2 separate regions of the Homo sapiens genome follow, and region 2 is linked to region 1. Evidence: fine-mapped expression QTL. Tissue or cell type: whole blood. Region 1 holds a variant in brackets; the other region holds the start of a gene. All regions are shown on one strand. Distances are from middle to middle. Region 1 overlaps ADPGK (ADP dependent glucokinase). Region 2 holds the start of ADPGK (ADP dependent glucokinase).

Region 1 (16,281 bases):
AGAGGCTGAGGCAGGAGGCTCACTTGAGCCTGAGAGGTTGAGGCTGCACTGAGCCATGATCTGTGATCATGTCACTGCACTCCAGCCTGGATGATGGAGTGAGAGCCTGTCTTAAAACACACAAACACAAAAAACCCATCATGTTTCTTAAATGATAAAGGACTGTTACATAAAATATACAAATAACTTCAAAAACTCTACATTAAGAATACAACCTGAGGCCGGGCGCGATGGCTCACGCCTGCAATCCCAGCACTTTGGGAGGCTAAGGCGGGCGGATCTCTTGAGGTCAGGAGTTGGAGACCAGCCTGGCCAACGTGGTGAAACCACGTCTCTACTAAAAACACAAAAATTAGCCAGGCATGATGCCTGTAATCTCAGCTACTTGGGAGGCTGAGGCAGAAGAATTGCTGGAACCCGGGAGGCAGAGGTTGCAGTGAGTGGAGATTGCACCATTGCACATCAGTCTGGGCAACAGCGAAACTGACTTAAAAGCAAAAAAACCAACCTGACTAGAAAATGGACCAAAACCCCTCACCTCACCAAAGATACACAGATGGCAAATAAACATATTTAAAAATGTTCCACATCATATATCATCAGAGAAATGCAAATTAAAATGAGATACCACTACATACCTATTAGAATGCCCAAATCCAGAACACTGACACCACCAGATGCTGGTGAGGATATTGAGCAATGGACTGTTCATTTATCGATGTTGGGAATGCAAAATAGTATAACCACTTTGGAAGACAGTTTGGCAGCTTCTTACAAAACTAAACATACTTTTAATGTTAGAACTCAGCAATCACACTCCTATTTACCCAAAGGAGTTAGAAATATATGTCCACACAAAAACCTGCACATGGATGTTTACAGCAGCTTTATTCACAGTTGCCAAAACCTGGAGGCAACCAAAATGTCCTTCAATAGGTGAATAAATGAATAAACTGTGGTACATCCAGATAAAAGACTACTACTCAATTCTAAAAAGAAATGAGCTATGAAAAGACATGTAGGAAACTGAAGTGCGTATTACTATAGAAAGGAACCAATTTGAAATGGCTGCATCCCACATGATTCCAACAATATGGCCTTCTGGAAAAGGCAAAACTATAAGACAGCAAACGGATCAGTGGTTGCCAGGCATTAGTGGGGAGGGAAGGATGAACAGAGCACAGAGGGTTGTTAGGGCAGTGAAATTACCCTGTGTGATACCATAGTGGTGGATGCATGTTGTTATATTAATATATTTGTCCAGGCCAGGTGTGGTGGCTCATGCCTGTAATCCCAGCACTTTGGGAGGCTGAGGTGGGCAGATCACCTGAGGTCAGGAGTTTCAGACCAGCCGGGCCAACCTGGCAAAACCCCGTCTCTACTAAAAATACAAAAATTAGCCGGGCATGGTGGCGCACACCTGTAATTCCAGTTACTCAGGAGGCTGAGGCAGGAGAATGGCTTGAACCCAGGAGGTGGAAGTTGCAGTGAGTCAAGATTGTGCCACTGTGCTCCAGCCTGGGTGACAGAGTGAGACTCTGTCCAAAGCCACAGAATGTACAAGACTGAAGCCAAAAGTAAATTATGGACTTTGGGTGATAAAGATGTGTCCGTATATATACATCAGTTGTAACAAATGTGGGAGATGTTTGCTTTACATGTTCTTGTGGGAGATGTTGATAGGGAGGGAAGAGGCTATGCATGTGTTGGGGCAGCTGGTATATGGCAAGTGTCTGTATTTCCTCAATTTCCTATGAACCTAAAACTTCAATACCCTTCTCAGCCCCTGAGAAAGTAAAAACAAAACAAAATCATAAAAATTCTCAGCAAATAAAGAATAGATGGGAACATCTTCAACCTGATGAAGGGCATCCATGAGAAAAAAAATGCAATGGATATCATATTTAGTGAAATATTGACTACTTTGCCCCTAAGATCAGGACCAAGGCAAAGATGTTTGCTCTTACCACTTCTATTCAGCCTTATACTGGACTAGAGTTCTGGCCAGTGCAATAAGGCAAGAAATAAAAAGGCATAAAGACTAGAAAGGAAGAAATAAAACTCTTTACAGATGACATGATTATGTGGAAGATCCTAAGGAATCCTAAAAATAAATTATTAAAATAAAAGTGACTACACCCAAGTGGATTTGGCAGGGTCACAAGATACAGTCAATGTACAAAAATCAATTGTATTTTTATATACAAGGAACAATTTTGAAAATAAAAAAAATCACAAAAGTGTCAAATACTATTGATACGAAATACTTAGGAATTTAACAGACTACACGTTAAGACCTCTACTCTGAAAACGGCAAAAGCACTGGTGTGAAACAGAAGGCCATTATAGAAATATATATCATGTTCATGCATTGTACGACTAAATACTGTTAAGATAAAAATTCTTCCGAAATTCATCTATAGATCCTATCATAATCCCAGCAGGTTTTGGGGTAGAAATTGACTTGACAAGCTGGCTCTAAAATGTTATGGAAACACAAAGGACCAAGAACATGTAAAGCAATCATGGAAAAAAACCAAAATTGGAAGACTTACACTGCCTTACTTCAAGACTTACTATAATAGTGCTCATGTAGCACTGGCATAAAGATAGACAAATAGAGCAATAAAACAGAAGTGAGTGCATACATAGACCTTACAGTTATACAGTCATTTGATTTTTGATAAAGGTACCAAAGCAATGCAATGGGAAAAGTCTTTTCAACCAATGTTACTGGAACGACTGGATAGCTGTATGGAAAAGCAATCTAGGGGCAGGGGTTGGGGAGATGTACAACACGGTGACTCTACTTAATGTATTATTGAAAATTTCCTAGTATATAAAAATACAATACAAAAGAATTTAAAGAAGAAAAAGTTATTGAAAATTGCCAACAGAAGATTTCAAGTGTTCTCACCACAAAAAACTGAGACAATGCATAATTAGCTCAATATAGCTATATACCTACAGCTAATGTAAAGGTAATATATACATATTTCAAAACATGCTGTACATGATAAAAACTTACACATTTTATATACAAAGTGAGACTATATTTGTGACATGGGCATGGTCCAATATTTCTTTGGGCATAGAGAACATTAAGACATTAAGAAAAAGGATATCAAACCACAGACTTGGAGAAAGTACAAAACATATCTGACAAAGGACTTGTATCCAAACATTTTGGATGCAACTCTTATTACTCAAAAAAACCTAACAACCCAAACAACATACACAAAGCAAACAACTCAACTGGGGGAGAAAAAGGCAAAAGATTTGGACACTTCACAAAGAAAGATATATGAATAGTCAATAAAGCACATGAAAAAGTGCTCATATGTCATTAGGGAAATACAAATTGAATCCATGCTGAAATACCACTGTATACCTGTCAAAATGGGTAAAATTAAACATTGACAACTCCAGATGGTTGTGGGGAAGAAAAGCAACCACAACTGTCATATGCTGTTTTAGGGAGTGTAAATGGTCCAACCATTTTAGAAAAAAGGCCTTTCACCCAGCAATTTCCCTCCTATAGGCCTTTACCCAAGAGAAATGACAGTACGTCTACACAAACACTTGTTGACAGCAGCTTTATTCATAATAATTCCAAAGTGGAATGCTCTGTACTCACAGTGGAGTACTATCTAGCTATAAAAAGCAACCAACTACATGCAACATGGATTACTCTAAAAAATACTATGCTAAATGGAAGAAGCTCTATACAAAGGACTAAATACTGAATGGCTCCATTTTTAAGTTGCATTCTGAAAACAGGCAAAACTGATTTCTGGTGGAAAATAACTGGTTGTTCTGGGGCTTGAGGTATGCGGTGGGGATGACTTGGAAGTGGCATGAAGGAACTATCTAGGGTGATGGAGACTTTTCATTTTTGCTGCTCCTTGCAGATCAAGACTAACTCAGACAATGTGCTTGGGGCTGTCCATTCTGAATCTTTTTTTTTTTTTTTTTTTTTTGAGACAGAGTTGGCTGTGCTGCCCAGGCAGAAGTGCATGATCTTGGCTCACTCCAACCTCTGCCCCATGGGCTCAAGCAGTTCTCTTGTCTCAGCCTCCCCAGTAGCTGGGATTACAGGCACCCACCACCACACCCAGCTAATTTTTGTATTTTTAGTAGAGACCGCGCCTGACCGTTACCTGGCCAACATGGTAAAACCCCATCTCTACAAAAAATACAAAAATTAGCCAGGTCTAGTGGCAGGCACCTGTAATCCCAGCTACTAGGGCGGCTGAGGCAGGAGAATCGCTTGAACCTGGGAGGTGGAATTTACAGTGAGCCGAGACTGAGCCACTGCACTCCAGCCTGGGTGACAGAGCGAAACTCTGTCTCAAAAACAAAAAGGCCAGGTGTGGTGGCTCATGCCTGTAATCCCAGCACTTTGGGAGGCCGAGGCGGCTGGATCACCTGAGGTCAGGAGTTCAAGACCAGTCTGGGTAACCTGGTGAAACCCCATCTCTATTAATAATACAAAAAACTTAGCTGGGCGTGGTGGCAGGTGCCTGTAATCCCAGCTACTCCGGAGGCTGAGGCAGTTGAATCACTTGAACCCAGGAGGTGGAGGTTGCAATGAGCTGGGATTACACCATTGTACTCCAGCCTGGGCGACAGAGCGAGACTCTGTCTCAAAAACAAAAACACAAAAACAAATTTACCAAATGGCACACTTAAAATTTGTGCAGTTTCACTATATAAACATTTTCACCTTTAAAAAAAAAAAGACCAGAAAACAAAATGTTAAATTATTACAAGTAGCTTTTCAGTGATTTAAAATAGTTCTAAAGAGACCCAAGAAATTGTCTGTTCAGCTTGGTTATAACTGACAATTATTTAGCTCTTAAGTATGTGCCCCATACTGTGCTAAATATTCCACATGGCAGTCTCCTGTAATCAACAGCCCTATGAAGGTAGGTACCGCCATTAACCCCATTTTACAGATAAGCAAAGTAAGGCTCAGTAAGGGTAACTTGTCCAACATCATTCAATACTCACCACCTCAAAACCTTTTGTACAATTTGGATTTCTTCTCAAACTTGCCAGGAGAGAATACAATGCAAACTGTACCTGCATAAGATGACGGATTTTTGGCTGTACTCTTACTTCTTGGTAGTGCTTTGTATGCTGCAGCTTTTCTTTTCCCTGAAACTAAAATCAGTTTCAAATGAAAGCCAGAGGGAGTGTACCAACACTTTTCAGGAAGACTCACCCTTCACCAGGCATCCTTTTTAGGCCAATGGATTTTCAAAGATTTCTTCATATAAAATCATATGTAAAATACCTTTGTAAAACACCAAAGGGTTGAGAAACCTGAAGCCCCCACCTGTTCAGCTTATCCTACCCTTCCAACTCACCTCTGCATAATCTGTCTTGTGTGATAAATACCCATCACTTCTATTGCTTAGCTGCTTCACAAAAAAGATGGACATTCTGCAGGGCGATGTATGTATGTTTAAATCTATATACACTTAGACAGTCAATGACATTTTATAAAACAATGCTTACTTATACTTACCCTTATAATGTATGATGTTTTTATACTTTTTGTGATAACCACCAAATGGATTTAGTAGCTATTAGTTCAAGATCCATTATTTGAAAAACACTGCTCTAGGGTATGTGTAGTCTATACTCCCTGAACTAGTCTTTACTGGCATCACCAATCAAAAAATGGAGAACGAGTTAAGAATACACACTCAGGACCAGGGGCTTAGTCAACTTAGACATTAGAAAAGATCATGTGAACACTTCAGGACTCCTAATAAAGTCTTCTTAGGTTTAGAATATAAATATTTCAATTCTTGAGAAAACAAAAATTTCATGTGAGCCTTTCTAATAAAAATAGGCTAGAAGGTTGGTGGTTATTTTTAACTTATCTGGGAAACAGAAGGAAGAGGTAGCAGCCAGAGATTTCCTTAATTTAAGCCTAGAATGCAGCTTTGAGTTACAAGCTGCATTCTAGGCTTAAATTTACTTTGAAGGAGTAATCAAGCTTTCTTATCCAAAGCAGGGAAAGGGAGGTCATAAATGAAGAGCTTGAGGTAGCTTTGAGATTCCAGAAGCTGCTGTGGGCCCAGGGGAAATGAAGACCCCTGAACTAGGCAGGCCCACCACCAGCTGCCATGTTCATACTGCCCTCCCAACAAGCTGAAAAGGCTCACCATGCTCTCAAACTGCTATGCTCCAATTCAGCTTTAACTGGGCTACTTCATACTAGTACTTTGTGTCACTTTCAACCCCACAGGACAAGCCTATAGCTCAGGCTCAGCATGAGGGACTGCAAGCACCTCAAGAGCAAAGTAACATGCACATCACAAATGAAGATCAGAATGATTTTTATCTTATCTGGTTCCAGAGTGGTGATGGAGACAAAAATCAATTACAGACAGAATTCCTGAAATGTAAATTGTTTTTAATATATTTAAGAGCACACAGAAGTCTTGATTTATAAAAAAATAAATATATAACATGACAAATTTACTGATGATCCTGGAGCTCTGAGGTCAAACTCTTTAAATGATCAGTGAAAACATAAAACATCCATGATCTGTTAACACACACAGGAGCATATTCCAGTTGTAAAAAACAAATTCCTTGAAGGCTCAGAACGAACAAAAATCAGTCTTTATGGCAGAAAGCACATCCAAAGCTAGGCAATGAAGTTCAGCCTGGGCCACGTGAACCTTTCACCAGCCAGCCTATAACCTATGGAGCCAGGACAGGAAAGCATGATCCTTCAGCTCATGACGCCACCCAGGCTTCCAGACAACTGCAGAATGAAAGAGTCCCTCAGAGGCTCCCCAGCCCCTGCTGCCATCATAAAGCACGGGAGGGATTGTTTTGTCCTTAGCGGCTCTGTCCTAAATTTGAGAGCAGGAGACTGAGAAGGTTATGCTCATTAAATATTGTCATTGTAACACGGAATGGAAATCATGATCCTTGCCCATGGGCACTGAGCTGAAAGAAAGAGGAACCTCACATGAGGCTTTCCTAGAGACCAGGATGTTGGGTGAGTGGGCGTGCACTTCTCAAGTGGGCAAGGAAGAACTGCTTTTCTCCAGCTGACATGCTCTCAGGGGTGAAGAAGTTTAGCTTAAAATACCTGATGGCGCTGCATAAACTGGGGATTTGGGAACTGAGTTTTTAGCTCTGTGACACACAACATAAAAAACAAAAATCCAGTCTCATTAGCTAAATTCGGATTAAAATCTGAAATGTTTTTATGGAGTTGCCAACAGGCTGGAATGTACCTGATACAGTTTAATCTGCTTTTATTTCTTTGGCTGTCTTCCAAACCACTTTCTTCCTGTAATTCTTAAGTTGGCTAGTTCTCCTTCCTCAGAAAAATTACCCCTAAGAATCTTCCTAATAGTGAGGGTGTACTTCCGAATAGAAGAGTCCTTCGGCTGAAATGGCATCTCCAAGGCCTACAGTTCGAATGGGGTCTTTACACACCAATACTGGTGTGAAGTGGAAGGATATTCCCTCTCTGTGCCATTCTACTACTGGCTTGTTTGGGTTTAATACAATCCTGGAGCCTGCCTCCGAATGGGAAGTCATGAACTCTTGGGGTGCCCTCAGAGACACTCGGCTGGTGTCTATGGTTTCTGTGGCGCAGGCCTGTGTCCCAGCCACACGAGCTCCTGCAGCCACGGCTGCCAGCTGGTTGGCCCAGTGTCCATCCACAGTTGCCAGGATGTGGTAGACCAGCGTGTGGAAATGGATCCTGGTGAGATCCGAGGCTCTGCTTTTACTCCTCCCATGTTCTTTCAAGATCCAGAAGAGGATGTCACTGACCATGCCCACATCAGGAACACCGTTCCAGGAAGAGAGAGAAGAGTGAGGTCCAGAGGCTGACTGGGTGAGAAATAACAGCTCCTGTTCATTCAGCCCAAGGGAAGTCACCGCGGGAAAGACCTGCTAACAAAAACAACAACAGGTATCTTTCTGATGGAGATAACCTGGCTCCTAAGATGTCTTATGACACAGCCAGTGACTAAATGACAGGGAACACAGGCAGGCAGCTTTCTTCCTTGATACAGGACTCCCTGGCCCTGAAGTCACTGTTTTAGCTATCACACCCCTATCTTCACCTTCATCATCATTTGGGAGAAACTGGAAAGCTGCAGTAACATTGTTTCAGATGCAGTCTTTTGTGATATGCCACTGTAAGACAAAAGGCAGAGGTGTCTATATTTTGTGTTTCTTTCCATGGTCCCTAGCTTTTGCCACTGCACACATAGGAGATACTCTTACCACTGATGGGGCATGGCTCTCAGTTCCTGAATGTCAGCAGTATTAGACCAGTAAAATGGAGACCTCAAGCAACATACTGTCAGGGTTATAATGATTTTTTTTATACAAAACACCAAGAAGCAAAAAGCATACAGTTTCATGTTAGAGCTAAGCTTTTTAAAAGCAGGTGTGGGTTAGGAAGACTGTCTGAATTTAGCAATAACACTGTAAGAAAAAGATTACCAAACAGGTGCCCGTGTTTTCTGTCTGATGGGGAACCACAATATCCACCTCCCTGTCTTTCTTACTTAGCACTTCCCTCCTTAGAACCAGAGAACCACACTTAAGGTAACAATTTTTGCAGGAGAGAGGAGTCCTTGTATGTATGTGTGCATGTATAAAATGGTTTTAAAAATTTAATGGCCTACATCTTTGTTGGAGCAATAGCAGCTTTCCTTCACTGCATGTTCTTCTGTGTCAGGCACTGAGCTAAAGGCTTTATTTCATCCAATTCTTACTGTAATCTTCTGAGGGAAGGAGGGACTGCCTCCATTGTACAGACTAAGCCTCAGAAGGGTTAAGTAGACAGTTACAGAGAAAATGAAATAGAAATGGCTCATTTTTTTAAAGGTGAGAAGAAAAACCCAAACAAAAGCTATACTGAAAAACACCAAGAGTGAACCCAAGTGTAAACTATGGACTTTGGGTGCTGATGACGTGCCTGTGTAGGCTCACTAGCTTAACAAATGTACCACTCTGGTGCAGGCTGCTGGTAGTTGGGGAGGCTTGTGTGTGAGGGGACTGGAAGTATATGGGAACTCTCTTGGATTCTGCTCTATTTTGCTATGCACCTAATATTACCATAAAAAAAAAATGAAGTCTATCAAAAAAAAAAAAAACAAAACCAACGACAGTCAGCCCTCCATATCCATGGCTTCAACCAACTTCAGATGGAAAACAGAGTATTCAAGGATGTGGAACCTGCAGATAGGGAGGGCCAACTTGTCTAATCCACAGATTCCACAGGGCCAACTGCAGGACTTAACCATCTGCAGATTCTAGTATCTGGGAAGGGTTCTGGAACCGCCCCCGCCGCCCCACACACCGCTGATGACGAGGGATGACTGTATACTGAAATACCATTTTTTCATCTGTCAGACTGATATAAATGCAAATTTTAACATTCTGGTAGCAAGGATATGAGGGAACAAGTATTTGTAATTATTGCCAGTGGGAAGTAAACTGGTATAATTCTTATGGAGGGCAATCTGGCAATCTCAAAATTACAAGTGCTTTTTTATGCTCCAGTCCAGCTGTTCTACTTCTGAGACTTTCTCCTAAATATGGACTTGTTCACAGGCAAAACAAAATCATGTATCAAGTTGTTCACTGCAGCACTGTGTGTAACAGCAAAGGGCAGTAAATAACCAATATGTCCATCCAGAAGGTTCAGGTTAAGTAAACGGAGGTACATCTACACATTCATTTTAACCATATGGCTATGAAAAGACAGAGGATACTCTCCATGTTAGTGATGCAGGAAGATCTCCAAGATATATTTAGTGAAAAAAAGAGCAAAGTGAAGAACAGAGTATTCAGTAGGCTATGCTATCTTTTTGGGTAAAAAGGGATGGAAAACAAAATCAGGATATATTTCTGTATTTTCTTATACTTGTACAAAAGAACTCTGGAAATAAACTGATGAAGGGTGCAAGTAGGGAAGGGGAGGAAGTAGAAGGGAGACTTCATTGTATATCTTTTCATAGTTTTTGGGTATTTTTTAACCAAATGAATATATTACCAATTAAAATTAGGTAACACTAGATTGCCAGGTGAGGTAACTTGCCTGAGTTCATGAAGCCCGTGAGTGCAAGGCTGGCATGCGAACCCAGGTCTCCAGAGCTTGTGTTCTGAAGCTTCACCTGCTCAGATTTATACTAGTCAATGCTGCTGCCCAGAGGCAGGCACTGAACACCCAGATGCCTGAGGAAGGAGGGAGGTTCCCTCAAAGTTTCTTTGCTTTGAGCTTCTTGAAGTTCAACTGAAAGCAGCTGAGCTGGGCTTTCAGTTTTTTCCATTCACTTTCAACTTTTCCATTCCAGAGGAGAAATATGATCAACAATCTGTCAGTTACACTGCCATAACTTTAACCTAGTAGGAGATACTGCTGTTTCAGAACAGTCCTGGATCCTTATTTGGATCTCCATGGACTTGGGTCTGAGTGACACAAACCTACATGTCAGTGAGCCAGTCCCTGAGCCCAAACAGATGGTCCCACTGCACAAAAAAGCTTCTCTGCAAGGCTCTATGAGGATCAGGGCCAAACGATGGTCCCATGAGGTTACCTGATGGACAATGCTGCTCATGAGCTCCCTGTTAGTCATACTGGCCAGCTCTAGGTGAACTGGAATACCAGTGGGGATGTCAGAAATGGAGGTTACAACCTGCAAAGAGAAGAAGATAAGCACTGCCATTAGAAATAGAAGGAAGTCAAGAAAGAGGGAAGAAAAGATCAGATCCTGAGAGGCGGTTCCTCCTGGTAATGGCCTTCTTTGCATGCTCACGGGAGCTACAAGCAATGTGGGTCCCCACCACCTCTGTGGACAAGGGACACTCTTCCCACCAGGGAAGACTAGGCTGTGCAGAGCCATCAGGGATACAGAATCAGAGATGGCAGTTCACTTCGACTGCTGTACGAATCTGTAGGAGTTGCAGCATAGCTGATGTGAAGTGAGATGATACAAATAACACAAAGGACACAAACTACAAACCCTGCAGCTTGCAGCCATGGTCGGTTTAGCACAGGATGCAGAGGCTCAGGCAAGAAGATGTTCTGCCCTGTCCTACTCAAGCTGCTGCCCACATCTGAAGGGATACAGTGAGGTGCCTCACTGCAGCAGGAGGCAAGCTCCACAGCCAGCTGCCAAGATATGTCCCTGGGAGGCCAGGACCTAAGACAAGGCAGCAGATGCCAAGAGAGGCTGGAACCTGAAGAAAACCACCAGCTGAGATCTGTGAAATTCTGTAACAGTGCCATTACCTCCAAGAGTCTCTTCCTCTGGAGCTCCTTGCTTTGTCCCTCCATCATGTGCAATCCAGAGAGGACCACCAGGTCTGGCTGAAACTCCTCCAGGCTAGACACAAACACCTCCAGCATATTCATGGCCCCGTTGGAGAGGTCGTGAGAGAAGATGAATCGGTTGGCATGGGGAGCTTTTAACTGGCCCCACTCCTC[C/T]CCTGGAAAAACCCAGTCAACACAATGGGAAGAAAAGGAAGAGGCTTTAGGTCTCCTAGCTGTGGGGGCACTTTCAGGCACCTCACAGGAGCCTTGGCTCCAAGCAGGCTGGTTTCTGGCTGAGGAGACCCCAGCAACAATGGCCTAAGGTCAGCATGGCACTGCAAGAAACAAACCAAAAACCTAAACCCAAACCCAGCCAAGAAACAGAAACATAGTATGGGTGCTATATGCCTTTTTCAAGGTAATTAGCTCCCCCTGAGTCCCAGGAGAGCCCTACTTGAGCTCTCAAACACAGGAGAGACAGTACAGAATGGCAGCATGACTTCCAAATACCAGCATACAGTGTGCAGCACGCACGCCCTGCAGACAGTATAGGCTGTCATTGTTTAAAGCACATTCTTCCTCACAGCATTGCCCTGAGCATCTTTCATTCAGTTGGAACTTAAGCAGGCTGAATTTCTTCCCAACAGCCAAGCTCACTGCATCTCCTCTTCCCTGCTGCCCATCAGTGGTTTCTGGGCACCTGATCCAAAGGATCAGACTATCTAGCTGCTCCAGTTGCTTCTATGTGAGTTGCTTTAGAGGAATGACTGTTTAAAGACCCAAGTTCAAGTGCTAGTTCCTCCCTAAACATGAAGCCTTTCCTAATCCTACCACCCCTAAGCAGACTTGATTACCTCCTTTCTGGGGCCACCACTGTACCCTAATACAGGACTGAGGCACATGATTTTGCAATTCCTTTTTCTTTTTTCCTTTTTTTTTTTTTTTTTTCTTCTGAGATGGAGTTTCACTCTGTTGCCCAGGTTGGAGCGCAATGGCGCGACCTCAGCTCACTGCAACCTCTGCCTCCCAGGTTCAAGCGATTCTCCTGCCTCAGCCTCCCGAGTAGCTGGGATTACAGGTACCCGCCACCACGCCTGGCTAATTTTTGTATTTTCAGTAGAGACGGAGTTTCACCATGTTGGCCAGGCTGGTCTTAAACTCCTGACCTCAGGTGATCTGCCTGCCTTAGCCTCCCAAAGTGCTGGGATTACAGGCGTGAGCCACCATGCCCGGCCTGCAATTACTTTTTCCAAGTGTCTATCTCTGGCAGTAAACTGTGAGCTGAGGGCAGGGCCTGTGTCATCCTCTGTCGTATTCCTTCTGCATCATGCTGTGTCTGGCATATAGCCATGGGAATGAATTAACAAAAGAACAAGCAAATAAGAGAACAGACTGATGACCTAAATGCCCATGACAACAAAAAATATGGGTATGAACCCCAAATCCAACATTTTGCAAATCAACAAAGACTCTGTACGATGGGAAAAATACATTACATTGACATTCTCCAGAGAGCAAGACGTGGACTCAACCCTTGAATAGTGACACTGCTAGGAAACACGACCTAACTGAACCTAGGAGAAAGGAGCCACACTGTATTGAAAATACACTGATTTCTTCAGGAAGTGACAGAGGCAAAAATAAACAGGCTCTTCTGCAAGGCAAGGATGAGAAGAACCGTGCAGAGCTGCTTGCTGTTTCCACAGGAAACAAGGCAGCAGATGCCAAGAGAGGCTGGAACCTGAAGAAAACCACCAGCTGAGATCTGTGAAATTCTGTAACAGTGCCATTACCTCCAAGAGTCTCTTCCTCTGGAGCTCCTTGCTTTGTCCCTCCATCATGTGCAATCCAGAAAGGACCACCAGGTCTGGCTGAAACTCCTCCAGGCTAGACACAAACACCTCCAGCATATTCATGGCCCCGTTGGAGAGGCCATGCAGGGGGCAGATGCAAATGGATCTAATTCTGCCTGTAATGGTAGTTAGCGCCCCTCTTTCCTCACAAAGTGTTGTATTCATTCCTGTAAGCAATCTCTTCTCAATGTATCATCCTGCCCTCAGCCAGTAAGTCAGCAAAACCTCTGCGTAGTGACTCACTGGATTCCCAGCCCAAGCCTGACAATGGGCTTCTCTGGGGAGATCTGGTAAGAGAGAATGTGGAAAAAAAAATGGACAAATCCCTTGGAATTTCCCTATTGAGGTCAGAGACAAGCTGGGAATGGATTTCTGTTGAGAGAGCTGAGCCCAGGGCTACTGCCACTAGACTAGGCTCCCTCCTTGGACCTAGGAAAATGTCACCTCACAAAGTTTAATGGAAGTCCACTGCTTTGTATGCAGAAGAGGCATAGGAAAGAAAAACTGAAGTGTGAAGCTTATAAACCCAAGGATGGAGACACTCTCTTTGTGCGGTGAACTGTGCTGTCTCCTTAACTACATACGAGGCACAGCTGTCCAATACAACATCAAAGTCTTGCTGAAGACGTAAGACTCTCCACTCTGTAGTCACCAGGAAAAATGACAAACCAGGAATCACAAAGGTCCCCAGTTCCTGCTGTGGGTGCCAAAAAAACTGACACGAATCTGGAACTCATGGCAGCAATACCTCAGGGGCTCATCTTTAGCAATTCCAGACCCTTCCAGTCCACAGTCAGGTCATTCTTTTATTTATTTATTATTATTATTTTTTGAGACGGAGTCTCGCTCTGTTGCCCAGACTGGAGTGCAGTGGTGCAATCTCAGTTCACTGCAACCTCCGCCTCCCAGGCTCAAGCAATTCTCTGCCTCAGCCTACTGAGTAGCTGGGATTATAGGCGCCCGCCTCCACACCTGGCTAATTTTTGTATTTTTAGTAGAGACGGGGTTTCACCATCTTGGCCAGGCTGGTCTTGAACTCCTGACCTTGTGATCCACCCGCTTCAGCCTCACAAAGTTCTGGGATTACAGGCATGAGCCACCACGTGCGGCCAGGTCATCTTTTCATCCAAGCTGCTCACAATGTTTCCGCACACCAACCAATCTCTTAATCCTTACCACAATGATCAGGCAGTAAAAACTATTACTCTTACTTCCCATTTGGGAAAACTAAAGCTGAGAAACTCAAAAACTTGTGTAGCATTAAGTATGAATTGCCTACGTCAACGCTGTGTCCCTAATTTTCAGACCCTATCCTTCTTTAATTCCCAACTGATTCTAGTAAGCACCCGAAAGAGAACCAGAACATGTTACAACTCTTTTTTCTACCTGGAGAAAGGCATAATTCTCAAGAAATAACATAGTTCATATCTTATGTTAAAGTTAATTACTCTAGTAGAGAAGATTCTCTTAATTGACTTGGAAGTAGTTCACTGAAGAGTATTAAGTGCTGCTTTAAGGTACCAATTAGTCTGTTTAGATGCTTGAGTCTTTAATGTGTATTAACAATGTGTTGAATCAGAAACTCAAGAGTCTGAGTTCTGAGCAGAGGGAAAATTACAGCAGGAAATACACAGGATCAAAGTATGTCCAAGTATTTAATATTCTCTCAGAAACCAGATGCCTAATCTACGTAACATATAAAATCTGCTGGGAAGAGGGGATGGGATGCAGTGGATGTGGATTTATTAACATTAGAACATCTGATGGGAAACAATATAGTGATGTTAAATACAAAACACTTCCATTCACACACCCAAGGAAAAATAAAATGCTCCAGAGAAACTTGCCAGAAGCTTGGAATCAACCCCAAGCAGCTTGGAAGAGTCAGTCAGAAAGGCCTAGGGCAGAATCCAGCACAGAGTTGAATGGATGCTACCTGCCTTTCTCTTGTCTTAGTCATAAAGGAAAACTTTATATATGTGTGTTTAACACGTTTTCACTTTTATTTGAGATGCTTGCTTTCCTATGACCTGATTTATCTTGGGTTCGGAGCAATTCTGCTTGTAGACCTGGGAATTTTCTTCCATGTTATAATACTCAGTCTCCCTTGAGACAACGGCCAGTATCAGCTCAGTAGAACCAATAGGTCAGGAAACTTTCAGTATGGCAAAAACAGGATCCTGCTAATTTACAAAGATAAATTTCCGGCACAGTCACACCCCAATCTGACAATACACAGCCCCTTGACTGGTCTTGCCACCATTACTTACTCATTTCCTTACCTGCTTGATACTCTAAAATGAGGTGGAACTCATCCACTTCCTGCAATGACTCTGGTGGAACAAAGACATTGTCATCAAGAAGCTCATGTAGCTTTGGACCAACTGGACCGCAAAGAAGAACCTGGAGGCAAGCAACACGAAGTCCATCAGGAGCCCCGTTCCTTTCCCCACAGAACCTCAACAGCACCCCAGGACAGTACATTCAGGCTGATTCTAATCATTTCAACAAAATATTGGAATCCAAATCTAATTTTGAAAGCTGTTGGTCTGGAGGTGTGCGGCAGAAGGCATGTCACCAGGGCTAAGGCCTCTGGAGGGTATGGCCATAATGTACCCAGAACTGAGAGGCTGACAAAAGAACTGTGTCACAGCCGTCAGGCACCTATGCAGCTGCTACATCTCATTCCCTCTGCTGCGGACTGCACGTTTGTGTCACCTCCCCAAATTTAGATGGTGAAGCCCAAACCCCCATGTGGCTTATTTGGAGATAGGGCTTTTGGAAGGTAATTAATATGAAATGAGGTCATAAGGGTGAGGTGAGGTCCTAATCAGATAGAACTGGTGGCCTTATAAGAAAAGAGAGAGAGATCAATCTCTCTCCCCCCACCGCATGCACCAAGGACAGGACATGTGGGAACACATTGAGAAGGTGGCCACCTGCAAGCCAGGAAGAGACTTCTCACCAGAAGCCACACCTTGCTGGAACCTTGTTCTGGGGCTTTCCAGTCTCCACTGTGAGAAAATAAACTTCTGTTGCTTGAGCCCCCAAGTCTATGGTATTGTGCTACTATGGCAGCCAAAGCAGACCCTACCCCCACTTTCTTTACTCACT
Region 2 (16,281 bases), 30 kb after region 1:
TTGCTGAACCAAACAGACCTGGGCTCCTGGGAACTCTGATGCAACCTGGGCAATGTCGTGAAAAGTTTCCTTATCACTGAAGAAGCGCTCAGCAGCTGCTCCCTTCCCCATGAAGTGAATGAAGGCTTCTTCCAGATCATTCCTTGAATGCAGAATGCTGTGATCTTTCCCATTCCCAGGACTAAGGCCAAGTGCCTGCAAGAGCTTCACCCCTGAGAGCACCACATCAACACATGCATTGACTCTAGAAGGAGGAAAAAAACTGTGTGAAAGCAGCAGAAGCACCAAGTAGCCATTTTGCATTTAACAAAAGGAAAATGTTTCTCAGAACCTTATTCAACAGAAAAAACAGGAAGTAGGTCTGAAACCTGAATTGGGAAGTAAACAGCACATGGCAGGAGAAAAATTACTTTAACTGGATTTATGTATTAGCATCAGAACACAGGACTCTTCAATAATTTGGCAAACTTTTACACTAGTTACAAAGTGAGAAGATAGGTGCTTAGCATTTCAGAACAAAGCTACTGTAACAAAAATGTAACATTTCTGAGAAAAACGCTGGCAGAGCCAAACAGGATTCATGCTGGCCGTGTGACTTGGGCAAGTCACTAATTTCTCTGTGCCTCGGTTTCCTCATCCACAAAATGGCAATAATATGAGCATTTAACTCATAGAGCTATGGTTAAGATTAAATAAGTGAATGTATACTTAGGAACAGCAATTGGCGCAGAGTAAGCAAAATATGTGTTTCAGTCAAAGGCTAGGTATCAGGCATCTTCCCTCTAAAAACAAATGAGGATGGTAAGATACAATAAATTCCTAAATGCCTGAGTACTCCCAGCTGAAACCCTGCCTCTTAGAATTTAGTGGTGTTTTACAGACTTAGGCACACCTGCAGCATTTTAAGAACTCACCCTTTGGCCAGTGTTCACAGGACTGACCCATGAACGTTAAAGACCTGCCACTCCTGGTTGTCTCGATGGAAATTATAAAGTACAGGTTGAATCCCTTATCTGAAGTGCTTGAGATCAGAGTGTTTCCGATTTTGGAATATTTACATATACATGAGATATCTTGGGAATGCAACCCAAGTCCAAACACATTTCATATATACTTTATACATACAGCCTGAAGGTAACTTTATACAATGTTTTAAATACTTTTGTGCATGAAATAAAGTTTCTATTCCTTACGTGTGGGTGGAATTTTCACATATAAGTACTTAATATACATCAGTGGCATCATGTCAGTGCCCCAGAGTTTTGGATTTCAGAGCATTCTGGATGCTCAACTTGTACTAAGGTTGTCTGGCATGACCTCTCCTATGTGTGTATGGAGAAAGTCTGTCTTACATTTTCAGGGTTTCTTTGCTAAGTCATCCCTCTTTTAAAGAGAACGTTCAAATAATTAAGGTAGCTAGATGAGGTCTTCCCGCCCCTACCCCTATCATGGTCATCTTTATTCCTGCCTCTGCCTATTGGGATGTCATTCTGGCCAGTGAGGTTGGATTACCACACAGGCAGCTCCCAGCCGGCAAACTGAGACCACCCCTAGTGATACGGGTGACTGGGCTTCAGAGTTAATTCTGAGCAGCTCTGAAACCACAAGGTAAACTCATTAATAAAAATGTCCCAATGGATGAGATTTTGGTGTAAAATACATAGTTGTATTTCCCTTTTAGTCTCTTTCAAAAATGAAGAGGAATGAGACTGGGATGAAGAGGAATTTTACCAGGTATATTTCTACTTTTAACATGCTTGTATTCCTTTTAGAATTTTTAAAATGACATAACTTTAAAAAGGTTTGTATGCAGACTAGATATTATTTACATCACTTAAGGAAGATTTACAAGGGCAAGGAAGAGACATCCTCCCTCAAGACACAAAGAGACTGCATCCTCATTATAAGGGTCCTTTTTATTAATTCTTCCCCTAGGGATTCATGTTTTGAAAGGAGTTTTGCCTATCAAATAGCATTTAAATACTCAGTTTCTTGTTCAAGACACACATAATGACTCTGGTCAACTGGAGAAGCATAACCTAAGATTTACTATGCCTTTCAGTGCATAAAACATCTAGCTACTGTATTTGGCCCTTCTCTTTAAAAGAGGGATGATTTCTAGTAAAGAAACACTGAAAATATAAGCCAGAACTTCTCCATGACACACACAGAAGGGGCCATTCTGGACATGCACGTGGCAGTTGCTTAAAGATATGTTTAAAATCTTTCCTTTCACAACCTTCAATGTTAAGAAACCAAACACACCTTGCAAACTGGTCTCAATTTTACCTCAGACATGGTGCCCTTTATTTCTAATGAATGCAACATTAGATTGGTAGAATCAACAGGAATACAAGTATCTGTAGCTCTCAGACGCCAGTAGGTTCCTAAGTTTCAGACAGTGAGGGCTTGAGTAAGGAGGGATACCATTTCCTCCAGACAGCCCAGTCTAAAAAAATTGTATCCAAATGGATTTGGGTCCCGAGTCTGAAGAGTAAAGGTTCAGAAATGGAGGGAAACCTGTCTTTGAAAATAACTACTTCAAAAACTATAAACACCCTCAAGCCTGTAATCCCAGCACTTTGGGAGACCGAGGCAGGTGGATCATGAGGTCAGGAGTTTGAGACCAGCCTGGCCAAGATGGTGAAACTCCATCTCTAATGAAAACACAAAAATTAGCTGGGTGTGGTGGTGGACACCTGTAATCCCAGCTACTTGGGAGGCTGAGGCAGGAGAATCGCTTGAACCCGGGAGGTGGAGGTTGCAGTGAGCTGAGATCGTGCCATGGTACTCCAGCCTGGGCAACAGAGCAAGACTCCATCTCAAAAACAAAACAAAACAAAACAAAACTATAAACACCCCACTCTCCATATCTAGTACTGCTGAGATTTTAAACAGTCTGACTCCTTAAAATGAGAATGGGGAAAGCTGTTCAGTATATTTTGTAACACAAGGCAAAACCCAACAGAACTAATTTTGAGTTACAAAATATCACTATCATGGAACATTTTCCATCCCTCACCTAATCATACCAGGAATACCGGGGGAAAATAACCAGTTTTTCAGACTGGTTCACAGTTTACTTGATAACTTTTTATAATTAAAAAAAACCAGGCTGAGCACGGTGGCTCACACTTGTAACCCCAGCACTTTGGGAGGCCAAGGCGGGTGGATCACTTGAGCCTAGGAGTTCCAGACCAGCCTGAGCAATATAGCAAGACCCCGTCTCTACAAAAAATACAAAAATTACCTGGGTGTGGTGGTGCACACCTGTAGCCCCAGCTACTCAGGAAGCTGAGGCAGGAGGATCACTTGAGCCTGGGAGGCAGAGGTTGCAGTGAACCAAGATGGCACCACTGCTCTTCAGCCTGGGTGAGAGAGCAAGACCCTGTCTCAAAAAAACACTGAACATCTACTACATGCCGGATGCCAAACAAGTACTTTACATGTACTTTCTTGTTCTGTTTTATAATACTTTAACCAGAATAAGAATCTTTCTCTGCACTTTCTCAACTCAATAGCATCCCAAAATGTAAAAAGCATATTACCTAAGGGGCTGTATTGTCAAGGGGAAATAAAGGGAGACACAGTTAAAGAATCAGAAGACAAAATTATGCTCATCTGACATGCAAGCAGAAGCTCACACTTCAGTAAAAAATGTATATTAGATGACTGTGATTTTGGAGAAAACACAGATGAAACAACTAGAAAATAGGTCAAGACAACAGATGCTGAATGTCAAAATGGGTTGGGGGGCTGGCAAAGAGGGCACAGTTCTCCCTTCTAGACCATAAGTGCCTCTAAGGCAAAGACGATGTTTCCTATCTCCTCCCTTCTGTTTCATCACCTGTAAAATGTTTTCTAAGGTTTTCTCTAGCTTTACATTATGTGCATCAGCTGTTATAAGAGCTAATCGTAATTGTTAAGACATAGAACTGTAAAGAGGCGGGGGAAAAATGGCTAGGGCAGTGGTCCCTGTGCTGAACCCTAGCTCCTGCATCTAGATAGAAGAAAGGCGGCTGATCTTTAAGAAGCACCCCACGCTAGGCAGGCATTTTCAGATAGATTAAACCTATTTGCAAAATGCGGTAAGATCGCTAATTAGTCATCACTGCTTTCAGCTGAGAAGAGTGAGGCCATGGATTAACTAACATTCCAAAGCCCACAGACAGGCAGAGCTGAAATTCAAACCCAGATTTATCTGATGATACTGAAACCCACGTAGGAAGTATACACAAGCAAAGTTGTACATGAAGGGATTAACCTTGTGTTTGGATACAATAAAGAATTATCTAGCTAGAATGGAGAATTCATACAGGGGAGAAGACCAAGATATGTTTCAAGGTTCAGGGTGAAGCCAGTTCCAGGGGCAATAAATATTAGCATGAGGGTTTTTTTTTTTTTTTTTTTTTGAGATAGAGTCTCACTCTTGTTGCCCAGGCTGGAATGCAACGGCGCGATCTCGGCTCACCGCAACCTCTGCCTCCTGGGTTGAAGCGATTCTCCTGCCTCAGCCTCCTGAGAAGCTGGGATTACAGAAATGCATCACCACGCCTAATTTTTTTATTTTTAGTAGAGATGGGGTTTCTCCATGTTGGTCAAGCTGGTCTCGAACTCCTGACCTCAGGTGATCCACCCACCTCAGCCTCCCAAAGTGCTGGGATTACAGGCGTGAGCCACCATGCCTGCCGGGTTTCATCATTTTTAAACCAATGAATAGGTACCAGAGTCTGATTTAGAAGCAGGGGAAGTTTCCTAGAAACGCCTTAAAACTCCTCCTATCCTTTACTTCTTTGACCCCTTTTCACCAGCCCCTTAATGCACTAGCATTTAAGGGCTAGTGCCTCCCAGAATTCCACCTTTACCATTTTTACCTTCTCCTCTTCTCTTCCTGGGTGATCCTATCCAGTCTCTGGCTTCAACCTAAGTGCCAGTGTCTCCAAAATTTGCAATCCTGTTTCTCAATATATTCCTAAAAACCAGCTTCTCATTTTCAGTAGCTGACAGAGAAGCTTCATCTGAAATCCCATAACAATGTATGTACATTTCTCCTCCTCTGAAATCCAATTTATCTTCTGAAACTTGTTTTTCTTAAATCTCTCTTAATGGCAACAACATGGCATCAACAAGGAACCAGAAATGGGAAAGACCAGGCTTCAATTGCTCCTCTGGCACTTGATAGCTACAAGATCTTGGGCAAATAAATCAATGTGAGAAGACTCGGTGACAATATCTGTTATCTGCCTCCCTCATAAAGTTGTTGCATTAGTCAATTTTCATAATGCTATAATGAATTGCCCGGGACTGGGTAATTTATAAAGGAAAGAGGTTTAATTGACTTACAGTTCAGCATGGCTGGGAAGGCCTCAGGAAACTTACATTCATGGTGGAAGGTGAAGGGGAAGCAAGGCACCTTCTTCTTAAGGTGTCAGGAAGGAGCCGTGCCGAGTGAATAGCAGGGAAGAGCCCCTTATAAAACCAAAGGATCTCATGAGAACGAACTCACTATCAGGAGAACAGAATGGGGGAACCGCCCCCATGATTCAATTACCTCCACCTGGTCTCTCCCTTGATTAGCTTATGGGGATTACAATTCAAGATGAGATTTGAGTGGGGACACAAAGCCTAACCATATTAGTTGTTATAAGATATTTAATACTGGGCTGGGTGTGGAATCACAGCTGTAATTCCAGCACTTTCAGAGGCCAAGATGGGAGGCCAAGGCCTGATCCCAGTAGTTGAAGACCAGCCTGAGCAACTTGGCAAATCCTGTCCCTACCAAGAATATAAAAATTAGCCGGGTGTGGTGGTACATGCCTGTAGTTCCAGCTACTCGGGACACTGAGCATGACAGGTCAAGGCCACAGTGAGCTTGAACATGCCACTGCACACGCCAGCCTGGGTGACAGAGTGAGATGCTGTCTCAAACAGAAAACAAAAACTAAACAAGATATCCAATATTAAAAACCTGTCGTTTTTGACTGCCTTTCTTTACTCCACCACATCCAAACTATTATTCAGGTTATCTCTCAAATCTCACCTCTTCTACATCATTGCCGAGTTTGGTTCGGGCTCCTTTCTCCCTTTACACAAACCCTACAATGGCCTCTTAAACCAGTGTCAGGATGTCAAGATATTCCTCCTTATGAATCACATTAAATGGCATTTTGAGTGTGTCTGTGTGACAGAGAGTGTGAATACGAGTGTGTCTCTAGAGAAGTCAAACTACAACCTCAAAATGAGATTCTGATACAAGTACTACACCTGCTCCCCCTCATCCCTCCTATATCCCCCTATCTTTGGGCTAAAAATCCTCTTTGGGTAATAAATGATGAGAAGCAGTGAAACAGTTTAGAACCACTGCTCAAAATCCACCCTTCACATTCCCACCAATTCTCAACAAAGAACTTGTCATCAGTTAACTACTTACAAACCTTTATGGCTTCCCCATAAAAGGCCCTTCACAATCTGGTCCAACCCTTCGTTCTCAGCATCATCTCTTTACAACCCTCTACCATAGGATTCTCGCTCCAAAACAAGGCCGACCTGTTCCCAAACAAACCATGTACTTTTTCACATTTGGTTCTCTTGCCTAGGTGGACCTGTTCCCACTTTGGCTTGAAGAAATCTCATTTATTTAGTGTCTGTCCTATGAAAGTCACTGTAGTAAAATATATTTTCCAAGATGGTGGCAATAAGATGCCCCATTCCAAATGTTCTTTTCACAATGTGACACTGATGCTCCTCCCATCAAGGTTTGTTCTATGTCCCCTCCCTTAAAACCAGGTGGACCTGTGACTCTGGTAGAAGAGTTCCTATGTGCTTCTAAGGTAAGGTCGTAAAAGGCATTAAGGCTTCTGCCTGGTCCTCGTGGGTTGTTCCTCTTCTAACCATAATTGTTATGGATTGAATTGTCCACCCCCCACCAATTCATATGCTGAAACCCTAATTCCCAATGTGACTATATTTGGACGTAGGGCCTTTAAGGAAGTAGTTAAGGTTAAATAAGGTCATACGGGTGAGCCCTATTCCAAAAGGACCTAGTGTCCACATAAGAAGAATAAGAGGCACCAGGAGTGTACATGCGCAGACTAACTGAAAAGCCAGCTGGCTGCAAGCTAGGAAGAGAGGCCACATCGGAAGCCAATCCTGCCAACACCTTGATCTTGGACTATCAGCCTCCAGATCCACGAGAAAACAGATTTGTTGTTTAATCCACCTAATTTGTGGTATTCTGTTCTAGCAGCCCAAATGACTGATACAATAATATGTTTCCAACAAGTGAGACAGGGGCCTTGCTTCACCCATCTCTGTATCTTAAGAACCTAGCACAGACCTGACACTAACCATGTAGTTGGTGAATATCTGCTGAATGAACGCGCATAAAGCAAGGAAGGACAATTTAATCCCAGCACTTTGGGAGGCCAAGATGGGAGGCTGGCTTGAGCTCAGGAGTTCGAGACCAGCCTGGGCAATATAGCAAGACCTCGACTCTACTAAAAAAAATAAAATAAATAAAAAATTGGCTGGGCGTGGTGGTGCTTGCCTGTCGTCCCAGCTACTCCAGAGGCTGAGGCAGAAGGATCTCTTGAGCTCGGGAGTTCGAGGCTGCAGTGAGCAGTGATTGCACCACTGCACTCCAGCCTAGGCGACAGAGAGAGAGACCCTGTGTCCAAAAAAAAAAAAAAAAAAAAACCCCAAAATTATAGCTAATATCGAATGCTTTTTAAAGCAGGCACTATGCTAGAGAGATTACATGAATGATGTCATTTAATCTTCAGGCCAAGTTTGCTCTACTTTACCCCTCCCGGCCCCAACACTCCACAGAAAGTAGTGAGCTACATGGTAGAGGGCCTGCTTTTATGTGGTGGTTATACATAACTCTGAGATTACGGCAAGAAAGTCAAATCGAACTGAGACAGGGACTAAAGTTAGTGTTTACAGTATCAATACTATAAAGAAAATAATTACATTCCCAAGGAAAAGTACAAAGAAAGGAGGTAGTGTCATTTGGAAGAACCTTAAATATGCAGTGTCACTGAAGTCAGGGGAAGAAAAGAATTTCACGGAGAAGGGCGTGTTCAATGCGTGGAAGGCTGCAGAGTAGATAATGAAGATTCAAAAAGGCAAATCTGAGAGGAGTTGCAGTACAGTCGTGTGGTTTCTAGACTACACGGCGTTTCGAAAGTGGGTAAAGGCAGACATCACGCGTCTTCAAGAAGTTCAGAAGAAAGAGGAAGAGTGTTGTCATAGTGGGTAAGGTCAAGTATCTTTGATTGCAAAACAACAGTCGCCAGAAGAGAAGGGGCTAAAAGTTGGAACGAGGAAGAAGGCTCGGAGAAAGGTGTCAGACAAAGCGGGATTAGCAAGAAGCTGTTAGGGCTGGTCCTACCGGGATGAGAGAAAGGCGCAGAGGCCAGCCGAGTGGAAAGAGCAGCGGTGACGAACCGGGTTCCACTCAGACGTCCGACACTTCTCGCCAAGGGGCCAGCGCGGACAGCAGCGCCTCCCGGGGACCTCTGAGAAGCCCTGTTTCTGCGCGGCTCCGCCCGACCTCCAAGGCCGACCTCGGAGGCTCAGAGACCCAGGCCCCGTTGGCACTCACCCCACTGCCACGCGGCGCCAGCGCCGGACTGGCCGCACGATAAGCGCGTCCCAGGCTGCCGCCAACCGGCCCTCGGGGGAGACGGGTCCCGGGGGCGCAGGCGCGGGCCCCAGACACAGCGAGCTCCAGAGAGAGCGCAGCGCCGAGCCTGGCAGCTCTGGCTCCAGCAGGAAGACGCAGCCCACGGCCAGCGCCAGGAAGCCCGCGTACGCGGAGCCGCGCCACAGCGCCATGGGGACCCAGGCGCCGCACCTGCGCGAACCAACTCCTTTCCTAGCCCGCGCCTCTTCCGGGCTCGGCGCGCGCCGATGTCGACACAAGCGCTACGTCACAAGGGTGCGCCACGGGGCCCCCCAAGGGGCGGGGCGACGGGCGGCGCCAGGACGGAGCGAGGGGGGACCCCACGCCTCAGTCCCAGGCCTGGCACTGCGGTGTTGCCGCCCCGGAGGAGGTGGGACAACGGCGGTTGTGCCAGTCCGGGCGCTGCACCCCCTTCCCGGAACTCTAATCGTATCCCCAAATAGAGGGATGGGAACACATTTGCTTTCGCAGTAAAACGAAACGGACAGATTGTGAAGAAGCGGACAAACCTCGCGTTAATATTCGAACCAGTGGGTGTCCCCATTGGCACGGATCACACCCCCATCTTTTAATCCCTCCCTCCGCCCGTGTCCCCTCATTTGCTAGACTTGTCCTCTTCCAGGCCTAGTGCTCGGCGCTTCTGAGAGGAATAGGCTCACAGAATAGCGGCGCTGCCGAGACCCCTGGGGTACGCGAGGCAGGGGGATTCCGCCCCTTTGGAAGGTGGCCGAGACCCTCAGCCACTAAAGGACTTCGTCGAGACAGGAGAGCCCGCAGAGATCGTTCTCTTCTGGATAACCAGATTATTCCACAATCAAACTTTAACCCTTTTGGGGGCGCTGTTCCCTTTAACAAACTCTGGAAAATGTACACAATCTTGTGCACAACACGAGAGTTATGGACCTGGGTTGAGAAACGCTGCTTTCTTTTGTTCCCCCTTGGTGACATCACTTAAACCCAGCCCTCTCTTCGCTGATACTTTTCTGTGCATGAGGCTAGGTTGAGAGACAGTGAAGCTAGGCTGGGTACCAGCTCATTCTCATCAGCCACAATGCCCGGCCTAGTCTTGTTCCCTGGTTTGTTTCCACTTTTCCAATTCTCTCGGCTCCTGACCTTGGCTTTGTGTCCAGTTTTCCACTGTGACCCTGACCTTTGGACTTGGCAGCGAAACTTTATTTCCCTAACTTTGATCTTGGGCATTAGTCTTCATTCTCCTCAGCCCCACCTCATCAGAACTTCCCCATCCTGGTCATCTACCTTCCCGCAGTTCATCCTACCCAGCCTACCTGACCATGCCATCCCTTTCGACAAAGATATTCACACAGGAACAGATTTGGGCTACCTTGGAAAAGAAGCCAAAGAGCCAGTCAGATCTTTATGAAGCCATGAAAGCCATCTTCCCTAGAGTTGCCTGTCACTTCTCTCTCCTTAGGGAGACATGTCAGTCAGTTCCTAGAGAAACTGCTTCTTCTCACAACCCTCAGCTGTCAGGTTTCCCTGGCACCCAGAGGGGACTGAGCCAGCAGCTGACCTGAAAACAGCGAGTCTGCTGACTGTCCAGCGATCATTTCCCTCTATTGAGAATTTTAACCAAGTTTCTGTTGTCTGTAGTTATTTGATATTGGCTGTGGACCCACAAAGTCACACAAGGCTAAAGGTCAGAACCAGTTAAATATGTTTCCAAGGTGAAGTTTTGGGGAGCACAGGAAGCTGAACTGTGGGAAGGTGATAGAACAGACAGATCTAGAGGACTAGGAGAGTGCTCCACATTAAAGTGATGTGGACAGAAACCTGCCTGGGGCTTTCTTGCTCCCACGAGAGGCTGCTAAACTTCCAGCACTTTGCACCTAATTCTTCTGCTTCTTTCTAGATTTGCCAGAATTGTTGATTTAGTCACAGAGACAAAACAACAGCAGTTGAACAAAGTGGATGTTTATTTCTCATGTAAAAGTCTAAATGGGGTGTTGGCATGTTGTGGGCTGTGGTAGCAAGCTTGGCCCCCTCTGGTTGCTATGGGACCTGCTGTGGGCCTCTTGCTGGTTAGTCACTCAGTGTGGGTTTGCATTGTGGGTGGTGAAGGGGGCCAGACAAGGAAACGAGAGAGCTGACCTCAATTCCAACTGAGAACTGAAGAGTCAGGAGCCGCAGGAGGTGAAGAACAGAACACCAGGGACAGTTGCCAGGCCTGGCGGAGCCTGATGTGGCTTCTGGTCACATACAGAGTCACAGGGCCCTTAATTCCTTCTCATCGGGGCTCAGGGGCAGGCATTCACTGTCTTGGTGCCACAGTCCCTCTTGAAATATTTCCTTAACGAAAATCAGAAAAGATTCTGATCATCTATCTGTTCAGAGAGTCTGGAATCCTTTGCAAGCCAATTGTTTTTCTAGAAGTTAGGTTTCTGGGGACAATTAAAACAGCTCTGAGTGGGCAGCTGTGGCTCCTTTGCCTAGGCTGAACAAAGAGGAAAGGGCTGGGCTGGGCAGGCCTCAAGACACCCCCCGCCCCCACCCAAATTGCTTCCAGACATGGCCTTTCCTATTGGTTCTCTCTCCTAGGACCTTGAAATGAGAGAAGAAAAGCAATTTGGTTCTAGAAAATTCAGAGGCAAATGGAGGCTCCAGGTGCCCCACCCAAGATCCTGACCTGGAAGGCCAGGGAGCAGATCCTGTATGAACACAAAGAATTAGCAGAATCCTGTCAGCTTCCAAATTAGCTGAAGGTTTTGGCTTTAACATAAATACCCATCAGCGTCACCCCCGCAATCTGAAAGGCCTTAAGGGGCACATTTGTTCCCACGTGGAGCAGAAACTAAAGTGGGACCAAATGGTCCCTGTGAAAGCTGGGCTAACCCACTTTCCTTGCAGCTCCAGGCCTCTGGGGTTTCATCCAAGCTGCTCTTTGAAGGCCACACTGTGTCAAAGCCTTTGTTGATGCCAGGGACACAGCCCACCACAGGCCATGCCCAAAGGCCAGAGTCAGAGCACAATTTTGAAGATTACAGAAAACTCCAAAGAGATTGAAGAGATGGAATAAAGGATCCCAGCCCCCGAAAAGAGAAAGCTTTGTGTCTGTAGCCATAGCCCTTGGCAATCAGACATCCTCCTCACTAATGTGAGGTCAGGAGGGGACTAGAAGTGCTCAGAGGATGGACTGCCTCTGGCCAGTGCAGGGGAGAGGCAGGGGTGTTGAGGCACAGGAGCCAGATGAGAGGAACGTCAGCAGCAAAGCAGTAAGAAGAACATGAGAGTTTCTTGATAGTAATAGAACTTCCTACACAGACTGGGAACCGGGTTGTAGCTTGAGGGGATGTGACAACATAGTGGCCCGGAATTTTCACTTTGGAAATTAACTGCTTTGGACCAGGAAGAAGCGCTGAGCCTAGAAAGGCAGGAGGCACAGGACTGTGTGGGCTTCTGTCTGGCAGGGACCTATGAGCTTCATAGGGCGAATGAATCGGGGCAGGATAAAGCAGAGGCCTCCACCCTCACAGTGCTCTTAGCCATCTCAGGCTTCCCGGAACACTGCTACCAGGCTGCCTGCTGGAGCCCTTTACACTCACAGGCCTTCCTGCTTGGGTTCTCTTCTGCAGGCTGCGTAAACCAGTCCTGTTGTAGCCCTTGTAGCATCTGCTGTAGTGATCTGGTTTGGGTTTCAGTATTACTTGCAATGGTTTGGAAGGAAATGGGAAGTTTGCCTTCTAACTACATTTTCTTTTTGATTCAAGAACCCTAGCAGTTCTACAACCACTGGGCCTAAAACTAAAATAAAGGAAAAATAAATAAAAGGAAGCAAAAACATCTAACTGGGATGGCCTGGCAGCATTGCCAGAGAGAGTCCTCAGGGGCCCATGCTTGTTCTGTCTTTTGCTCTGCCATCCCTAGGGTGGACAGCACGGAAGAGGCAGTACATCTTAACAAAATCAGGGTTCTGGATGAAGGGAGGGGTGGTGAATGGTTGCTGCAATCAACAGTTCATACTTCAATGGAAAGAAGGTGGGATTTGATTCCTGGCTGCAAATCTTCACTCTGTCACCTGCTATCTGTGTGCCCTCAGGTAAGTCATTTAACTTTTCTGTTCTTCAGTTTCCTTATATGCAAAATAATTCCTACTTTGCAGAATGGTTGTGGGAGGTAGAGTTATCTTAAGACAGTCTAGCACAGTGTCTGCTACATGCTGGAATTCAAAACATTCCCTGCTGTTGCTATGGTTGGTTCTGAGAGCTATATTTAATTTTCTTTTTAGTCTTTCTTGCTGGTCTGTCACTCTCTTACTATAAGGAAGACAGCCATTTCTGCATAGGTCACTATGCAGTAGCCTTTTCTATTTTTTGACGGCTTAGCATCTATGTAATATCCCACTGAATGAAAATACTAAAATTTATCTATTGTACTATGAATAGACGATTTGGAGTTTTCCCAGTTTTTTTACTATTACATACAGTGTTGCTATGTATATGCTGTGGTACACGTGTATAGCCATTTCTTCAGGGTAGAAACAAAGTAACATTTCTGGGTCATATGATATGCCTGTCTTCAACTTTACTATATAATATCTGACATCTTTCCAAAGTGGTATGCCAGTTTATCTTCCCACTGGCAGCATATGAGAATTTCTGTTGCTCCAGCTACACTCCAACAGATTCTTAAAGCTTTGTCATTTTGTAGGGTGTGTAGTGGTATCTTACTGTGGTTTTGACAAGTTTCCATTTGTTGGTTATTTGCAAGTATCTTGCCTCCCTCCCAGTCACTTGTCTATTCATTCTTTTTATAATATCTTTAGTGAGTAGAGTTCTATGAAAAATTATTCTTATTTATGTATTTTTGTAGAGATAGGGTCTCTCTGTGTTGCCCAGGATGGTTTTGAATTCCTGACCTCGAGAGATCCTCCTGCCTTGGCCTCCCAAGGTGCTAGGAATACAGTTGTGAGCTACCATGCGCAGGCTTAAAGTTCTTCGTTTTTAGTGTAGTTACCGTTTTGTTCTTTTTTTATTACTACTTTCCCCTTATCATTGGTGCTTTTTGTTACTTATTTAAAAAATCTTCCCATACTCAGGATCGTGATGGTATTTTCCTGTACAACCTTCTAAGAGCTGTAGGCTTTCACATTTCATGTTTAGGTATTTAATCTACCTTGGAATTGATTTTTGTGTGTTGTGAGAAGAATGCTTATAGATACCCAATTGACCCAGTGCCTTTTACTGGTCATTTCTCAATGACTCTGCATTCCCACCTCTGTCCAATACCACGTGTCTATGTATGTGTGGATCTGTTTTGGGGCTCTTCAATCTGTTCCATTGGTCTATTTGTTTATCAGCGTCTCACTGTCTTGATATCTGTTAATATAAATTCTTTCTCCTTACTCTTCAAGAGTGTCTTGGCTATCTTTGGCCTTTTAAAATTCCCATATACATTTTTGAATCAACTTGTCGCCCTCCCTCCCAAAAAAACCCAATTAGGATTTTTATCATTCTAGGACTATGGTAGATCCCTTCATTTATTTAGATCTACCTAAATGTCTCCCAATATCATATTAGACTTTTTGTGGAGGATTTGTATGTCTTTAGTAAGTTTTATTACTAGGCACTTAATATTTTTAGTATGCTTATTGAAGTAAAATTGATATGCATTAAGTGCATAATATTTAAAGTATACAAATTAATAAGTTTAATATATGTATACACCCTGAAACTGTTACAGGAAAGGGGTCCAGATCCAGACGCCAAGAGAGGGTTCTTGGATCTCATGCAAGAAAGGATTCAGGGCTAGTCTGTAGTGCAAAGCGAAAGCAAGTTTATTAAGAAAGCAAAGTGGTGAAAGGACTGCTACTCCATAGACAGAGCGGGACGTTCCCGAAACTAAGAGGAGGAACGCATCCACCCTAGGTACAATGCTTGTATATATGGAGAGATGTGCTCTGCTACAAGGGTTTGTGATAAACTATTAATTTTCTTAATTATCGTATTTGGCAAGAATCAATATTATTATCTTTCAAGCAAAATTAGGAATGCCTTTGTTCCCCAGATATTGGGATATCTGGACACTCCCGAGTCTGGGTCTGTTTTAGTAAACATTATTAATTTGTTCCCTTAACCGTAAACATCTAGAGGCTAAGAATGCCTAACTTTCTGGGAATTCAGTCCAGCAAGTCTCAGCCTCATTCTCCTAGCCCTCACTCAAAGTGGAGTCGCTCTGGTTCGAATGCCTCTGACAAAACCATCACCACAATCAAGGTAATATAGTAAACATATCCATCACCCCCAAATACTTCCTCATGGCCCTTTGTAACCCTTCCCTCTTACTCCTTCCTGCCTGTACATCCTCCCACTCCCTGTACCTAGGCAATCTGCTTTCTGTCCCTACAGTTCAGTTTACACTTTGCAGAATTTTATATAAATGGGATCATACAGTACATACTCTTTTTGATGTGGCTTTTTTCATACAGCATAATTATTTTTGAGATTTATCTAGGTTATAGTGAATATCAACTGTTAATTGCTCTTTAAAAAACTTTTAACTTCAAAACAGTTATATATTCACAGGAAGTTGCCAAAATGGTAGGGTCTGTGTACCCTTCACCCAGTTTCTTTCAATGGATATATCTTACATAATCATAGTGCAGCATCAAAACCAGTAAACGGACATTGGTGCAAGGTGTATGTATAGTTTTGTGCCGTCTTATTATATATGGAGATTCGGGTAATCACCACTCAATCAAGTTGCAAGAACTGTCCCATCACCACGAAGATCTCCCTCATGCTATCCCTTTAGTCACACCCAACCCCCATCCTCTACCATTCCTAGACCCTGGCAGCCACTAATCTGCTTTGCATCACTGTAATTTTGTCATTCTGAGAAATGTTATAAATGGAATCATACAGTATGTGATCTTTTGAGAGCATAATACCCTTGAGATGCATCCAACACTGTTGCATGTGTCAATAGTTCATTTTTGTTATTTATTTTTATTTTTTGACTGAGTAATGTTCTGTGGTATGGAAAGATCACAGTTAGCTTAGTCATTCACTCATTGAAGGAGAACTCCCCAACAATTGCTCTGGACATGCTGGAATTTTTTTTTTCTGTTCTTTGTTCATTCTTGCTCATGGTGTGTTACAAATATCATAATTCTCCTTTTTCTCTGTGACCTTGTCTCTCAGTCTCCCATCAAGGAGTGATGTCTATTTCTCCACTTCTTGAATCTGGGCTGGCCTTGCCAATAGAATATGGCAGAAGTGACATCGTTCCATTTCTGAGTCAAAGCCTGAGTTGTTGCCAGTTTTGGGCAATTGGTTGTTGCCAGTTTTGGGCAATTGCAAATAAAGCTGCAATAAACAATCATGTACAGAGTATTGGGTGCACATATTTCATATCTCTGAGAGAAACGCCCAGGAATACAATTGCTGGGTTTTATGTTTAGTTTTCTTTTACATCCCCACAGGCAGCATATGAGAGATCCAGTTTCTTCACATCCTCACCAGCACTTGATATTGTCACTAATTTAGGTTTTGTTCTAATGGGTGTATAGTGACATCTGTTTGTGGTCTTAGTTTACATTGCCCTAATGGCTAGTAGTGTTGAGCATCTCTTCATGTATT

The links. PIP is the estimated chance that this variant, and not a neighbour inherited with it, causes the effect.
Region 2: it holds the start of ADPGK, and the variant in region 1 is fine-mapped to the expression of ADPGK in whole blood (TOPMed, PIP above 0.99).

The regions. Positions count from the first base shown.
Region 1 is chr15:72,744,958-72,761,238 of GRCh38, forward strand. It overlaps ADPGK (ADP dependent glucokinase), which reads right to left. Exons shown (of 7, transcript NM_001365225.1): 4 at 15,450-15,570; 5 at 11,294-11,490; 6 at 10,599-10,697; 7 at 6,337-7,938. The coding sequence ends at 7,384. Among named protein-coding and RNA genes, the nearest start is that of ADPGK-AS1, 30 kb to the right of the region's middle. The variant C/T (reference allele first, on the strand shown) is at 11,489.
Region 2 is chr15:72,774,854-72,791,134 of GRCh38, forward strand. ADPGK (ADP dependent glucokinase) reads right to left here and starts at 8,905. Exons shown (of 7, transcript NM_001365225.1): 1 at 8,606-8,905; 2 at 19-244. The coding sequence starts at 8,838. ADPGK-AS1 (ADPGK antisense RNA 1) reads left to right here and starts at 7,982. Exons shown (of 3, transcript NR_040107.1): 1 at 7,982-10,343; 2 at 12,569-12,740. RefSeq lists enhancers at 8,281-8,350, 9,111-9,170, 9,221-9,430 and a silencer at 8,601-9,060.